Regions from separate parts of the Homo sapiens genome. Here region 2 is linked to region 1. The links come from fine-mapping of genetic effects on gene expression. A gene starts in region 1. The other region holds a variant in brackets. All regions are shown on one strand. Distances are between the middles of the regions.

Region 1 (5,516 bases):
CTGCCTCGGCCTCCCAAAGTGGTAGGATTATGGGTGTGAGCCACTGCACCTGGCACTGAGTCCTCTTTCAGTGTGCCTTTTTGAGAAGGACATTTAGGTAAAAGCTAATGTTTGAGCCACAGAGCCATGACCCAGAAACCAGCAGTTACCTGTTGGCTTCTCATCCTGGTCGTTGGTCAAGTGGGCAGGAGGTATGACCGTATTCCTGTCCTTGTCCATCAGGGCACTGTCTCAGGCCAGGTTTCCCCCTGATGCCATCCGGGGCTCTCCAGAAGACTGTGTCAGCCACATGTCCGAATCCCTTGGTGCTCCTGTCTCCTGTGACTGTCCCTGTATTCCTTCATGAAGAAGTCTCTCCAGCCCCTAGGCAGGGAAAGTAGAAGAAAAATGCTTCATAGCATCTTTTCCACTAGATGGTCACTCTGGCAGTCAAATAGGGGGTGTGGTTATTGGCTATTAATTATTCTGCTTTTCTATACATAATAATAGCTATGCTCACCATAGTCTCATATCTCTGAGAGATATAAAGCTGACAATATTACCAGGCCCTCCACATTACCTAACCTCAGAGAAAGAGAAAGAATATTGGGAGTTCAGTAAGATATGGAATATTTTTTATCAGGGATGGTTTTTGAATCTTCAGTCATTTCCCCTAATAATAGAAATGATATATGGCAAATATAAAACATTTTTAAATGAGCAAAGATACTACATTTATAAGAAAATTAAAAGCACTTATAATCCTATTATCCAAAGTATCCACTATTAAGAGTTTGGTACATGATTATCTAGGCGTTTCTTCTGTGAATGTATATAAATAAACATATATAAATGTTTAATACATGAAATCATATCACATATACAGTTTTCTATCTGCTTTTTAAAAATTTTCCATGGAAACCTTTCCATTGTTATATCCTCATCCTCATTTTAAAGGCTGTGTATTATTTCATGGTGTGGAGGAAATTTCAGGTATTTGTTACTAACCTGCTATTTTTGGGTATTCGGGTGATCTAGAGCGGAGATATTTAAATATTTTTAAAGTGCGTTTGGGATATGAATTCTAACACTCAGGCATCAGGCACCAGTGTACAATCAAGAGCCCTTCTCAGAAGGTGACAGAAGGTCCCCATGTCCCAGAATTAGCCCCCAAAAAACCCCAAAATAAAAAAGGGACCTTGATCCCCAGCTGAACTTTTCATGGGGTGACCTTGAGCAAGCTGTGTGTGCAGCCTTTGCTGGGTCTCCCCACCACAAAAGAGATCTCCAGAATATTCGAGGAAGGGCGGGGCTCCCAGGAGCAAAGCACACACTCTTTCTTGCGCAGCCCCCTGTGGACAGAGCTGTAACCTGGGCCCAGGGCATGCTCCCAGCCTGCAAATGGAGATGCTGCCTCATTTTTCTCTCTAAATCTAAACTTTATTATCAGCCCCTCTCCTACCCCAGGGAGTCCTGGCCAGCCCATCTCCCCACTCCCCTAGAGCTGTTGGGGTGTGAGGTCTCAGGCAAGGCCGAATATTCTGGGGTGAGAAAGGAGGGGAGGGTGGGATCTGGTCACCAAAGTGTCACCCACACACGTGGCTTCCAAGATGCCCATCACCTCGTTCCCTCCACGCCACCCCTGGGCCCCAGGGCTCTTTGCCAAGGCTGCCTGTGGCCACCACATCCCTGAGCCCTGCTGCTCTGGGGTCCACAAACTTCTCTTCTAAGGAAAAGATTCCATGGGGATGGAGGGATTCTTCAACCTTCCTGCTTCCTCCTGCCCAAACCCTCAGGACACAGGCTTTGTGGGAGCCCTCAGGTAGGAAGGAAGGTGTCTTGCAGGTGGCTTCAATTTTCCCCCTACCACAGACCCCCTCCAGACCAGAAGGACACACTTGCCTCTACTTGAATAGAGAAGGGAAGGAAAATCAGAGAGAAAAAAAATGAATATCCGAGCCCTTCTCCTGCCATAGTCTCTCCTCGGCAAGTCCAGGTCCTCAAAAGGACACTTTCTTTCCCTTTCCGGTCTCTACCCCACCCCCACACACCCAGCAAAAAATAGAGTGGGCTCCATGTTTCTCCCCCAGTGTGGATTTCTTGGATTCCCACAGGTGAAGCGCCTGCTCCTGCCTCTCTGGGGGTCATGTCTCCAGGCCCCCTGGGAGTGGGAGCCGAGTCTGTGCTGTGAACACCCCACTATCCCCCTAAGCGGGTCTCCTCTGGGAGAGGCCGCTCCACAGCCCCAGCTCCATGCTGCCCGGAGCTCCTGGGGCAATGTGGACCAGAGAATGATAGTGGGACTTCCTGGCTGAGCCCTTCAAGGTCTCCTTTGTCTCTCCTCCTTGTCCCCTCCCTCACAGGCCTGCAGCCCCACTGATCATCTTCCAGCCCTTGGCCCTGCCATGGCCACTCCGGCCTAGACAGCTGCTTCTCAGCAGGAGGTCTGTCCTTGACCAGGCTGAAAGGTGACCTCGGGGTCCTGTCCATCACCACCTTGTATGTCCATCAGCATTTATCAATAATCCCTAGTCACCTTGTTTGCATTCCTCGATCAGTTGACCTGCAAACTAGCTGTCTTGCTAGTTAACCTCACGAGGACTGGGGGTGGCTTGCCGGTCCCACTGTGTTCCCAGCTTCCAGAGTGACACTGCACCTAGTAGGCACTCAAATATCTGTGAAAGGGTGGATGAGTGAATGGGTTGGAGGAAACCCCTCCCTATTCATGTCCATTCTGAAGATAAGAAAACTCGCTGCTTCTACCTGAAGGGAAAACCTTCCTCCTCCAAAAACCCTCCTGTTCTATATGAGGCTTTAGAAACCAAAGGCAAGGACGTTTCTTTCATCTGCCTTTCATCCTGCAAAAAGCCCTCCACTCAAGGGAAGAAAGGGCACTGGAGTTTATTGAGTGGGAGACAGGCGGCAGGTGGGAGACGGGGAGGGAGGAGAGAAAGGGAAATTCAGGAGGAAGGAGTCCAGCGTGGATTGCTCCAAAGCTCACCCACCACGCCCTGACTGCAGGTGTGATTCGGGGCCCCCGTGGCTCTGCTGGGTCCAGGTGCAAGCAGGCACAGAGGTGCTGGCGTCAGCTCGATTCGCAGGCCCTGGACTCCTGTCTAAACAGGACAGGCCCGGGCAACCGCAGGGCAGGGGCGTCTGCCAATGATGGGGGAGGACTCTGCTGCTTCTTAAGCTCCAGCGTCTCAAGCCAGGGCGAGACAGCCCGCCGGCCGCCCGGATCTCCACCTGCCACCCCAGAGCTGGGACAGCAGCCGGGCTGCGGCACTGGGAGGGAGACCCCACAGTGGCCTCTTCTGCCACCCACGCCCCCACCCCTGGCATGGCCGACCAGCTGACTGAGGAGCAGGTCACAGAATTCAAGGAGGCCTTCTCCCTGTTTGACAAGGATGGGGACGGCTGCATCACCACCCGCGAGCTGGGCACGGTCATGCGGTCCCTGGGCCAGAACCCCACGGAGGCCGAGCTGCGGGACATGATGAGTGAGATCGACCGGGACGGCAACGGCACCGTGGACTTCCCCGAGTTCCTGGGCATGATGGCCAGGAAGATGAAGGACACGGACAACGAGGAGGAGATCCGCGAGGCCTTCCGCGTGTTCGACAAGGACGGCAACGGCTTCGTCAGCGCCGCCGAGCTGCGACACGTCATGACCCGGCTGGGGGAGAAGCTGAGTGACGAGGAGGTGGACGAGATGATCCGGGCCGCGGACACGGACGGAGACGGACAGGTGAACTACGAGGAGTTTGTCCGTGTGCTGGTGTCCAAGTGAGGCCGGCGCCCACCATGCTCCTGGGCGCCCACGCGGCCCACAGGGCAAGAACCCGGGGCCTCCCGCCTCCTCCCCCATCCCCCTGCCTCCCCTGGGCACTGTGGCTTCCTCCTGCGCCTGGTTGATTCAGCCCACCTCTCTGCATCCCGCTTCCCGCGTCTCTTCTCTGCACTCCTGCCGACCTTCCCACCTGCTCGTCTGAATGACACGGAACGCTCCCACTGCAGGCAAACCGTGACGCCCTCCCCACTCGGGAGAAGCAGAGCTGACCTTAGGACCGAGCACCAGGGCAGGTTGCGCTGACTCTGCGGCCCTCCAGGACGGACACCGGGTGACCCCTTAGGGCACCCAGGCAAGATCCCTAAGAGGCACCCAATGCCCAGGCCAGGGGGGCTGCAGCCCTCAGCCCCCGCCAGGATTCCCGCAGGCTCCTGGACTGGAAGCTCCCTCCGCGGTCGGATTCTGGAGGGTGGGAGGCATCTTGGCCTGCAGTAAGCGGTGCTGACGGGGACTCTGGCCACAGAGGTCAGGCCTCCTGAAAACAGCACTGCCTTCCGCGCTGCCCCAGCTTGCCCCATTCCTTGTCCGCCAACCCACCGTGATTCATCTTCTGAAGCTGGGAGTGAAACTGGGTCAGCTGTAACCTGTTCCTATTCATCTGGAAGGAGGGAGGCTTGGATGAGCAGGGGATGAGAGCTGCAGGGAAATAAATGAGATATTCGTCCTTATTTCATTTCCTTTTTTTTTTTGGTTTCCATGGAAATGATCCTTGTTAAATTCAGGGTTGAAACGAGGCAGGAATCTCCATTTTTGTGCTTTTTGAAAATGCAATGAATTCCTATACGGGGGAGCGGGAAAGGTGCCTCAGAGAGAGACAAGTCTGGATGAGGGAAATATTGAATATTCTCAATCAAATGGATACGCTGGCAGCAAAGAGTGGTTAAAAGTCCATCAGGACTTGAAAGACCTGAGTCCATTACGTTGAGAAGGGACCTGCTGATTGCTTTGATTCCCCCTGGCAAGTGCTCCCTGGTTGTGAAGTGCCAGGCACTAGAGATGGTGAGGGGTTGGGGGGCAGTTGGGCACACACAGTGTAAGAGCAATTCAGAGCCGTTAGTCCTGCACTAGCCCTGCAAGCTGCTGGCAACACCTAGAGAAGGTCGAAGGGGCCCTGCCAGAGATCCCTTCAATTCTAAAGGGAGGTATGTTTTGCGGGATGGGCACTAGACGGAGCTCATCAGAAAAGGCCATGGTGGATGTATCCTCTCTCCCTGACACCCCACCCCCGCCCACCAACACCCAGTGTTTCCTCCTTTGTAAAACAAAGAGCTGGGCCCCAGCCCCGGCCTTGCCATCATCACTGCACCACTGGGACCTCCAGGATGACAGGACCCTCATGCCACCTGCTTGGGCTCAGGGCACCATCAAGCACTTGGCCTGCATAGACAATTGGCACCTCCCTATGGGGCAGCCACTATTATTACCTTCCTCATCTTACAAACGAGGAAGTGGAGACACAGAGGGCTTTAGAAAGCAGCCCTGGGTCCCACCAGTGGGTAAGAGGCAGACCTGGGATTTCAGTCAGGTCTGTGCCCTGACCACTCAGCTACAGGTCTGACACCAACCTGTGCCTCCATCATGGTAACTACGGTAGCGCCTCTCTCCAGCACTTGTGAGGAGCCAGAACAACATTCTTAACACACCTGGCATGTAGTAGGTGCTTAATAATGGCAGCTACTGTTACCAT
Region 2 (5,000 bases), 430 kb after region 1:
CGTGCCCAGCCAGGGTCACATAATTTTTATATTGATATCACATTTAGAAAAGAATGTTTTATAACTATTAATAGTAACTAAAAGTTTAGTTTGGACAAATCTGATATCCGTATCAGTATGGAATGCTGGAATACTGGTTACTAATTGATAGAAGTACAAAATGAAGGCTAGAATGCCATTTGAGGCTTTAATCAAAGAATAATAATACTGCCTAAAGATTAAAAAAATGAGAAAAATTAAAAAAGTTAGCAAGTGGCAGAAATATTTTTGCCAGAAATGCTGAGATGCAGAATTTCAATGATTAGAAATACAAAATTAAGGCTAACATGAATCAGTATATTTATAAGAAGGCATACCCCTATTCAATGAGGACTTTCAAGAATATATTCATGAGGGTATCACAAGAAGAATGGGTAGGACTGCACGCGTTGGCCACCTGGTGCACTTTCTCTGGCCGCCCCATTTCTACCATGAGCAGGGGTAGGGGGCACTTGGGCTTGGGCCTAGCTCACTGCTCCTCGGCTCTGGCACTCATTGGCTCCTAGAGAAGGGGTGTGTGAGAGCCGATGGCCAGGAAAGGCGTCCTTCTTGGGAGGGGGCATTCTGGAATCACTATGGTGGGGCTCTTTTCTTTTTCTTTTTTTTGAGACAGAGTCTTGCTCTGTTGCCCAGGTAGGAGTGCAGTGGCGCAATCTTGGCTCACTGCAACCTCCGCCTCCCGGGTTCAAGCGATTCTCCTGCCTCAGCCTCCCGAATAGCTGGGATTACAGGTGTGCACCACCAAGCTTAGCTAATTTTCATATTTTTAGTAGAGACGAGGTTCCACCACGTTGGCCAGGCTGGTCTCAAACTCCTGACCTCAAGTGATCTGCCCGCCTTGGCCTCCCAAAGTGCTGGAATTCCAGGCGTGAGCTACCGCGCCCGGCCAGGTGCAGCTCTTTTCTCATGGGGAAGTCTAACTCTTGCAGAGGGAGTATCCAGTGCAACTCACCTTGACTTGAGGTAGCATGCCAGGAGAGACACAGCGCTCAGCCCACACAGCAGGACAGTGGACGTGGAGATAGCCACTGAAAGGGAGGAGACCACGCTGAGATACCCAGAAGCACATTCATTGCTACGAACCACAAATTCTTTACCATGGATGTTCTTACAGAGGGATCCAAGTGCCTCCCAACCAGCCTCCTGCTAAGGACATTTCTTAAGGTCCATGCAATTCCCCCGATTCTATGTCTAGGCAAAAACACATTCTCTTTCCTGCTGAGGGTGCCAGCTCCCAGTCGTCCCACACCTCTGCTCCTCATCCTTGTCCTTCTCAGGCAGAGTGCCTGGGGTGACGGGGCAGGGACGGAGCAAGTCAGGAGGGAGCAGTAAGAGCCTCAAGGGCAAAGCCAAGAGTGCGATGAGGAGAGAGCATTCCTGCTGCTAAAGCCAGGGTTGAAAAAGCAGACAGGGACACACCCCTCCTCTGCTGTCCCCAGTACAACGCCCACTTTGCTTCAACTTCACAGATTTAGAAACAATAGCACACAGTGCCATTTTCCTTCCAATTTCATTTTTTTTTCACTTGCAATTTTTTTTTTTTTTTTTTTTGAGACAGGGTCTCCCTCTGTCACCTAGACTGGAGTGCAGAGGCACTATCTCGGCTCATTGCAACCTCTGCCTCCTGAACTCAAGTGATTCTCCTGCCTCAGCCTTCTGAGTAGCTGGGATTACAGGCACACACCACCACGCCTGGCTAATTTTTTGTATTTTCAGTAGAGACGGGGTTTCACCATGTTGGCCAGGCTAGTCTCAAACTCCTGACCTCAAGTGATCCACCTGCCTCAGCCTCCCAAAGTGCTGGGTTTACAGGCATGAGCCACTGCGTCCAGTCTACCTACAACTTTTTCTTTCTTTCTTTCTTTTTGAGATGAAGTGTCATTTTGTTGCCCAAACTGGAGTGCAGTGGCGTGATCTCAGCTCACTACAACCTCCAGCTCCAGTGTTCAAGCAATTCTCCTGCCTCAGCCTCCCGAGTAGCTGGGACTACAGGCAGGTGCCACCATGCCCGGCTAATTTTTGTATTTTTAGTAGAGACAGGGTTTCACTATGTTAGGCAGGCTGGTCTTGAACTCCTGACCTCGTGATCCGCCTGCCTTAGCCTCCCGAAGTGCTGGGATTACAGGCGTGAACCACCACGCCTGGCCAACTTTTTCTTTTCTTCTTCTTTTTTTTTTTTTTTCTGCGACGGAATCTCACTGTGTTGCCCAGGCTGGAGTGCAGCGGCT[C/G]GAGTTTGCTCACTGCAACCTCCCCCTCCCAGGTTCAAACGATTCTCCTACCTCAGCCTCCTGAGTAGCTGGGATTTCAGGCGCCTGCCACCACACCTGGCTAATTTTTGTATTTTTGGTAGAGATGGTGTTTTGCTATGTTGGCCAGGCTGGTCTCGAACTCCTGGCCTCAAGTGATCTGCCCACCTTGGCCTCCCAAAGTGTTGGAATTACAGGCATGAGCCACAGCGCCCGGCTGATTTTTTAATCTAATAAAAGTCATGAACTAGCAAAAGCAGATTATAGATTATAGCCCATCATCAAATAGTTGTTGGAAAATGTATATAGAAAAAATGACCCCTGAACTTTATATGTAGGATTTTATCCTACAGATGTTCTTGCACCTATGGATTTTCAATTAATGGCTGTTTGTAAGATAACAACAGAATGTAGCAATCACATGTCCAGATAGGGGGTTGGCTAAATTAATGGTAGGAATTCCATACAGTGGAATATTCTGTAGCTGTTAAAAACGATGAGATGGTTTTTGTGTCCTGATATGGGAGGATCTACAAGGTATACCAGCAAGTGGAAACAAACATGGTACAGAAAAGGAGAAAAGAAGCAACTGTCCAGCATTCCTTATCCTCTATATGTTTATTTATACAGTCTCTCTGGAAGGATGCCTGGAAATCTGGTAGCAAGTGTTGCTTCCTTCCTGCAAGGGGATTTTTGAGTTAGAAATGGGATTTGCTTTTCGTCTTTTTTTTGAGACAGGGTCCTGTCCTGTTGCCCAGGCCAGAGTGCAGTGGTGTGATCACAGCTCACTGCAACCTCTGCCTCCTGGGTTCCAGCAATTCTCCCACCTCAGCATCCCGAGTAGGTGGGACTACAGGCATGTGCCACCATGTCTGGCTAATTTTTTGTATTTTTAGTAAAGATGGGGTTTTGTCATGTTGTCCAGGCTGGTCTGGGACTCCTGGCCTCCAGTGATCAGCCCCCCTCGGCCTCCCAAACTGCTGGGATTATAGGTGTGAGCTACCTCGCCCAGCCTGATTGTTTTTTAAACGATTCTAATCAATTAACTGCTAAAATGTCCAAAGTCACTTGATGTTTTCCCAGATGACGTTTGATGCAGGTAAAAATGACACCACAAAAATATGAGTCATTCTCTAGCAGAAAAATTTATGAACAGAAGATTAAAATAATTTTTGTCCATATCAAATTACAGTTGGGTTTTTTGTTACTTTGGAAGCTTGTCAGCCTGGAGCATGACTTGCATTCTTCTCATTACCTGCGTTCTTCCTCCCTGCCTGCTTCCCTTCTTCCTCCTGTTCTCCCCTCCTCTCTCAGCTCTCCTCCCCTCCCTTCAGCTTTTTCTTTTAGTCTTGTAAACGCTTTCCCCTTTTCCTCCTTATCATCACTTGCACGTTCTCTTTTCTATTCTCCTAGCCTTAGCATTGCGTGTGACTTCTGTAAAGAGGAGCAGATTTTTGGTTTTATTTTGTTTTGTTAACTTTTTTTCTTTTTCTTTTTCTTTTTTTTTTTTTTTAATAGAGATGGGGTCTTGCTATGTTGACCAGGCTGGCCTCAAATTCTGGCCTCAAGCAATCCTCCCATTTCGGCCTCCCAAACTGCTGGGATTACAGGTGTGAGCCACCATGCCTGGCCAAGAGTAGCATTTTATACCGAAAATGTGGACAGCTTCTCTGTTAAGTGCACGGTGCCACGCCCTGGAGAGGAATTGGCAGCTTCTGGCAGAGATGCTGTAACGTCAGTGCTGGCATCAGCACCTGTAGTTTTGGATGCTCCATGCAAAAGAGGTGCACCCTGCTGTGAAGAGCTGACCTTGAGCCCTTATTTGGGGTGCCAGCTCTCTGGGTTCAACCCCAGTAGCCTGACAGCTAGAAGCTACCAATATTTAGAAAAATGGGCACATCAAACAGAGAATTCCATAAATCAGCTATTACTTAACTTATTATCTGATGGAGGCCTTCTGAGTGTGGAAGGGGCTGCTGTCAGGGCTGTGCTGGGGCAGCGGGCCTGGGCCAGGACCACCCAGCACCCTGGGACTGCGGTCACCCTGATCATAAACATACCGGACAAAGGGACACACTTACCAGTGGTGTCGCTGTGGCCCTGTGGATACACACCTGCGGAAAAGAGAGGACAGCATCACGGCTCGAGTCCTAGAGGTCCTAGTTCCTCATGAAGCAGGAGAAAATCTGCATGGCTTGGCTCCCATCTTAGCACCCTGGGAGACTCGTGGCTGGCGTAACCAGACTCATTTTAGCAAAGAACAAGCAGGGTAGCTCACTGAGGTGCTGGCCACACTTAAGAATCAGATAAGCCTTACAGAAGGTCCCCATTACCCTCAGCTCCTCCATTCCACAGATCCTGGCCCCGGACTGTAGGCAGCTTCACCACCTCCTACTGCAGGAGGGCACAGATGCCACTCCCAGCTGCACAGGCTCTGCCATGCGGGTGATAAGGCTGGCCCTGTCACATCTTGGGGGGGTGTGGGCTTGCTTTTGCAGCTGCCCCAGCCACAGAGAAAGCCACGGAGAAAGAGGTCAGGCCAGGACGCCGTGGCTGGTGGCCGGGGCCAGCAGGCTGCCCAGTGAATCCTGACTTTGGATTGATGGTATAAAGCTGCCTTGTGCCGGATCTCAGCCCCGATCTCAGAAGCAGCAATGGGGAACTGACCTCTCCTGGGGCAAAGCGAGTGCTAACCTGGCGGCTGGTGGGAGGCGG

What was found. PIP is the estimated chance that this variant, and not a neighbour inherited with it, causes the effect.
Region 2: its variant is the best candidate, but not a certain one, in a credible set for the expression of CALML3 in minor salivary gland (GTEx, PIP 0.53).

The regions. Positions count from the first base shown.
Region 1 is chr10:5,521,767-5,527,282 of GRCh38, forward strand. It overlaps CALML3 (calmodulin like 3), which reads left to right and starts at 3,195. Exons shown (of 1, transcript NM_005185.4): 1 at 3,195-5,005. The coding sequence starts at 3,320. The coding sequence ends at 3,769. CALML3-AS1 (CALML3 antisense RNA 1) reads right to left here and starts at 4,480. Exons shown (of 3, transcript NR_120497.1): 1 at 4,367-4,480; 2 at 150-363. RefSeq lists enhancers at 3,500-4,199, 4,200-4,900.
Region 2 is chr10:5,955,388-5,960,387 of GRCh38, forward strand. It overlaps IL15RA (interleukin 15 receptor subunit alpha), which reads right to left. Exons shown (of 7, transcript NM_002189.4): 4 at 4,980-5,000; 5 at 4,367-4,399; 6 at 992-1,067. Among named protein-coding and RNA genes, the nearest start is that of IL15RA, 20 kb to the right of the region's middle. The variant C/G (reference allele first, on the strand shown) is at 2,268.